2 separate regions of the Homo sapiens genome follow, and region 1 is linked to region 2. The links come from fine-mapping of genetic effects on gene expression. A gene starts in region 2. The other region holds a variant in brackets. All regions are shown on one strand. Distances are from middle to middle.

The links. PIP is the estimated chance that this variant, and not a neighbour inherited with it, causes the effect.
Region 1: its variant is the best candidate, but not a certain one, in a credible set for the expression of RGS19 in whole blood (TOPMed, PIP 0.63).

The regions. Positions count from the first base shown.
Region 1 is chr20:63,611,070-63,613,965 of GRCh38, reverse strand. All of the region lies in intron 2 of GMEB2 (glucocorticoid modulatory element binding protein 2), which reads left to right. Among named protein-coding and RNA genes, the nearest start is that of GMEB2, 15 kb to the left of the region's middle. RefSeq lists an enhancer at 1-7. The variant G/A (reference allele first, on the strand shown) is at 1,509.
Region 2 is chr20:64,078,121-64,080,978 of GRCh38, reverse strand. It overlaps RGS19 (regulator of G protein signaling 19), which reads left to right and starts at 1,461. Exons shown (of 6, transcript NM_005873.3): 1 at 1,461-1,685. OPRL1 (opioid related nociceptin receptor 1) reads right to left here and starts at 897. Exons shown (of 5, transcript NM_182647.4): 1 at 627-897. RefSeq lists silencers at 313-486, 880-1,559.

The DNA of each region.
Region 1 (2,896 bases), 470 kb after region 2:
CCTCCCCCTCCTGTCCAGACCACCCACATGCTAGACTCTCACACCCAAGAGAAGTCTCACGAACATGTCGCAGGAGCATCAAGGACACTGGAGTTACCCATTTGAAATGTGGAGAGTTCAACATTAAGTACATTTTTATTGATAAACAAAAATGGGCCAGGCGCAGTGGCTCACACCTGTAATCCCAGCACTTTGGGAGGCCAGGGTGGGTGGATCACTTGTCAGGAATTTGAGACCAGTCTGGCCAACATGGTGAAACCCCGTCTCTACTAAAAGTACAAAAATTAGCCAGGCGTGGTGGCGGGCGCCTGTAATCCAGTTGGGAGGCTGCAGCAGGAGAATTGCTTGAACCAGGGAGATGGAGGTTACAGTGAGCCGAGATTGTGCCACTGCACTCCAGCCTGGGTGACAGAGCGAGACTCAGTCTCAAAAAAAAAAAAAAAAGAAAACAAAAATGTTGTAGTAATAAAATCCTGCACAGTTGTCTTCGTACACAGTTGTGGCTTAGAGCTCTCCTCTGTGGGTGTCTTGCCGGCTGGTGGCAGTGACGGACCAGGGCAGTGGCAGACACAGGCGCACGGCTGGCGCAGTGCCCTGGAGGCTGGTGTCCCACTTGCTGTCTTGGTTTCCTGTGGTCACTGTGGAAGGTGGCTCCTGTAGGTTAGCTTTGCTTTATGAACACTGAGTAGGAGCTTTTTTTCTAGGATGTTAAAAGAATTTGCTCACATCTTATGCTTGAGTTAACTCTTTGAAGAACAGTGAGAAGTAGAGAGGAAATAATTGCCAAGTTCTCTTGCTTGCTCTGTTTATGATTGTGTCAGTTTTCTTTTGCTGTTTAAGAAAACACCCAATGGCAGGCACCTGTAGTCCCAGTTACTCAGGAGGCTGAGGCAGGGGAATGGCGTGAATCCGGGGGGCAGAGCTTGCAGTGAGCCAAGATTGCGCCACTGCACTCCAGCCTGGGCAACAGAGTGAGACTGCGTCTCCGAAAAAAAAAAAGAAAAAGAAAGAAAGAAACCATCCAAAACTTAGTGGCTTAAGACAAGACATAGTTGTTATTATTTTTAATTCTGTTGGTTGGTTCGTGGTTCTGCTGGTCTGGGCCGGCCTCACCAACCCCTGTCGTCAGCTGACAGCTTGGCAAGGACCTGCTGGTCTGGGTGGCCTTGGCCACAGGGGTCTCTGGAGGGAGGCAGTCTGAGGCACAGGTAGGCTCGGCTGGGTGGCTCTCCTCTGCTTTGCCCGGTCTGTGATCCTCCACCTGGAGGCCTGGACTTCTTTGCCCCGTAAGCCCACAGTTGCAGAGGAAAGTGGGCCTCCTGCTCACTTCTGTTGCCTTGATTGACGCAAGCGACATCACCAAGTGCTGGTTCAAGGGCAGAGCTAAGACTGCCTCTTGGTAGGAAGTTACAAAACGTTGAGATCATTTCTGTGGCCACAGAATGACATTTCCATTCGTCCGCCTCCCGCCTTTTCCTGGGCCTTCCCAGCTCACCCCTTGTGGCCAC[G/A]TCGGGTCTGGGTGTGGCTGGGGCTTCTTGGTTATGGCACGTCTTGATCCAGAGACTGGTGAACTAAAACCTAGCGACTTCCCCTCCCCTACTGAGCGTGCGGTGGCAGACAAGACAGGACGGGCTCCAGGGCAGGTGGCTTGTTCGAAGGCACCTCACTGATCCAAGATGGGGCAGGGTGGCCCTTTGGCCAGATGCGGCCAGAAAGCTTTCTAAGGTGTGAGGGAAGAGTGACAACCATAGCCCAGGTTGGTCTTTATTCTGAGACCATCTCTTTTTTAAATTTTCTATTTTTTATATTTTTTCCTTTCTTAGATTTCTGTGGGTCAGAACCATTTTTTACCTTGACAGAGTCTTTTGCCAGTGGAGAAACTGGAGACATGAAATGATTTTTTGTTTTTCGAAACAGAGTCTCGTTCTGTTGCACAGACTGGAGTGCAGTGGCACAGTCACGGCTCATGGCAGCCGTGACCTCCTGGGTTCAAGGAATCGTCCTGCCTCAGCCTCCTGAGTAGCTGGGACTCTACAGGCATGTGCCACCATGCCCGGCCCCGTGTAGATTTTTAGTACAGTGCTGGGACTGCAGGCATGTGCCACCACGCCTGGCTAATGGGCTCTCACTGTGTTGCCCAAGCTAGTCTTGAACTCCTGGACTCAAGCAGTCCTCCCACCTCAGCCTCCCGAAGCACTGGGGTTACAGGCTTGAGCCACCATGTCTGGCCGATGCAAAACAATTTGATCCCCTGGGGATTCCTTGTTTGGAGAAGAACCTTCTAGCTCCACTGTGTCTGGAATGTTCCTTGCGAGATCACACTAGTCAGATGTGTTTCCTTTTTTTTTTTTGAGACCAAGTCTCACTCCGTCACACAGGCTGGAGTGCAGTGGCATGATCTCAGCTCACTGCAGCAGCCTCCACCTCCCGGGTTCAAGTAAATCTCTTGCCTCAGCCTCCTGAATAGCAGGGATTACAGGCACCCGCCACCACGCCTGCCTAAATTTTGTATTTTTCGTAGAGACAGGGTTTCACCATATTGGCCAGGCTGGTCTTGAACTCCTGACCTCAAGTGATCCACCACCTTGGCCTCCCAAAGTGCTGGGATTATAGGCATGAGCCACCACGCCCAGCCTGTTTCTTCTCTTTTAAATTGCTGTGGCATAAGGTCCTGCCAAGGTTTCCTCTGCCTCATGGCACAGTGGCCCCTTCCACACACAAGAGCCGGGTCTGGGATGGCATTTGTGCCCTTAGCCTGTGCCCTCTCCCCACGCAGAGGCGGTGCTGTGTGTCCCAGGCTGGGGACAGCAGTGCTTGTTTCTGGCAGTTTCTGAATTAGCCATGCTTGCAGCCTAACAAACCACCGCAGAGCTTGGTGGCTTAAAGCAGCAGACAC
Region 2 (2,858 bases):
CAGGGGCACCCAGATACTGATACTTGTCCGTTGAATGAGGAATACAAGTAGAATCTCCAGCTGCCTTTGCACCCCTCAGAGTTCTGTGAAGGTGTAAGGTGTGCACCTGACCTGTGCAACTGGAAGGCATTTTATGAACAGATCCCGACACTGGGAACTATCCGGGTGGAGTGCTTGTGCTGGGGAGGACAGGAGCTGCACACAGCCGGGCCAGGGGAGGGGCGGGGGGCACAGATGCTCTGCAGACACTTCCAGAGCAGGGTCAGGGCCACCCTGACACAGGGCCAAAGCATGCTGCGATGAGAAGCCTAACCCACGTCTGTACCGAGTCATAAAGGATGAGAAGAGTCGGCCAAAGGGACAGGGCGTTCGTGGCAAAGGGGACAGTGTGGCCTTAAGCTTTAGGACATCTTGGGACACACGGGTCAGCAGGGACTCTGCCAGGCCCCACAGGAGACATTCGGCATGACTCCGGATGCAAGAACCCGCACCCCCAGTTCTCCCCAGCCCCGCAGCACAGGAATCTCCCCCTTCCTTGGGAACCCCCCACAGCACAGACAGGCGGCTCTTAACCCAGTTTTACAGACGCGGCTCACGGAGGCGAGGGGTGGGCCGGGCTGGCGTACCCGCCGATCGGTCCTTTGCAGCAGCCTCCTCTTTCCCAAGCTGGGCAAGCAGCATATGGGGCCCAGCTCTCGTGCCTCCACTGTCGTGGAAGTCCCACACGGATGGCAAAGCAGGAACGGCCCCGCCGAGCAGAGTCGGGGGCCACGGCCACACCCCCATCTACTACCGTGCGGCTCCGTCCGCCCGGGAGCCAGGGCTCCACTATGAGCACCTCGACTCTCCGGGCCACCCCCAGGCGACTGTGGGGGCCGACGCGCGGGCGGGGCGGGTGGGGTGCGGAGCCGGCCGAGCGCGGGGCGGGGCGCGGCGGGCGGGGCGGGCCCGGCGACCGCCGGCGCGAGGAAGTCCCGGCCCCTGGCTTTGGGGAAGTGCCGCCGAGGCGCCTGCGCACTGCGCCCCCGCGCCCCCTCCCCGACTGTCGGGCCGGACCTTGGAGCGCGCGGGCCGGCGGCGGCGCGAGTGGCTCGGGAGCGCGGCTGGTGAGTGCGCGCGCGCAGCGCCGGGGACAGCGGCCCTGCCCCTCCCGGCCCGGGCCCGGGGACCGTGCTGGGCGGGAGCTTCGGGAGCCGGCGCACGGGACTCGAACCCCAAGGGCTCCCGCCGCCAGGTCCACGTGGACCCTGGGCCGCAGTGGAAGTGGAGCCCGCCCCCCGCGCGTGGGGGAGGGGGCGCCGCAGCCGGGTTCCCCTTTTTCTGGAGCTCAAAGCCTGGGGAAGTGATTGCTCAAAGGTGGGGGCCGGAAGAACCCAGGTTTCCGCGTCTCCCTCCCCCTCTCAGCCCGGTGAGGAGGGGCCGGGGCGGGACACCCTGTCCGCCCCCGCCCCCACCCCGCTGGATCTGGCAGCCACTCAGCCCTTCGAGCTGTAGGGGAGGCGCTGCGCCCCCGGCCCCAGCCGATCGGGGGCTCCTGGCGCTAGCCTCCCTCCAGAGCGCCGCAGGAGTCCCTCCTGCCGTCTGACTTGAGTCCCTGCTGCTGCAGTGCACGCCCCTTCGGCAGCCAGGGTGGGGCCCAGACCCAACCTGGCCCCTCCTGCCCCCACCCCGCCTTTGGGTCGCTGGTGAGTAGGGAGCTTTGAGGTAGGGGTGGGGGCGTCAGAGGCTGAAGAAAGAGGCACCTGGAGGAGAACACAGGCTTCTCCAGACTGGACCCTAACAGCAGAGAGAGGAGCGTGGTGGGTGGGCCACCACCACCATTTCAGAGGTGGGGAGAGCTGGCCTTCCCTGGAGGGGCCAGGCCAGGGCTCGCCCACCAGCCAGATGTGGAGGGTGGCAGATGGGAAAGGCCCTGGGTAGGAGCTAAGGACTGAGAATGGAGCCCCTCTTCAACCCCCCTCCCAAAGGTTATGACATTTTTTTCTGGGATTGTCACATTTTCTTATTCTTTTTTTGGACTGGGCAGGCTCTGGGACGTTCTTTTTCCTTCTGTGGAGCAAAGCGGCAGCCACTCCCAAGGGATCCTCTATCCCCAGAGAGCAGACGTGCCGCCTATCCAGCCTATCCCATCCCAGACTTGGGGGCCAAAGCCTGGGAGGCTGGGGAAGGGGGTCCCCAATGCCAGGTTGACAAGCAGGAGGACCCTAGTTGAGACTCTGTATCCCCCAGGAGAGACGGGGGGAGGGTAGCCTGGGGACATGGGTTGCCCCAGTTGACCTGAGAAGGGTACAGGAAGCCAGGTCCAGGGACAGGTGACCAGGTCCAGGGCCTGCAACTGGGAAAGAAGGGGCTGGCTCCCTGCTCTGCAGCAAATGCAGCCCCTAGCACCCCGGCCCTGCACCCCTAAACACGTCCCCTCCTCCAGTTCAGAGCTGGGGTGGAGATGGTAGCCCAGGGGGACAGTCTCAGGGGTGCTAGAGTGTGGGGGAGGACCCTGGGTGGGGACAGAGAGGAGGAAGAACTGCTGCCTGGGGAAGCCACAGACAGCCCCGTCTGGGTACAGCTACCAAACCTCAGGTTGCCACGCCCCTTCCTTTCCCTAGAAACTTGACCCCTGAAAGAAAGCCCAGCTGCAGGGCTACTTTCGGTCTCCTCATCTACTTGCTAGGAGCCCGTGGGACCCCCAGTCTCAGAGGAAACTGGGCCGGTGGTGAGGGGCCAAGGTCCCAGGGGATGCTGCACCTGCCCCAGACTTGGGCCAGGGCAGTGGCCTCTGCATGCCCAGGCCTCGGGGGTATTGGGGGCCCTAAGAGTGCAGAACTCCAGCACTGTCTCTTCTGAGGGCCATTCACACACCG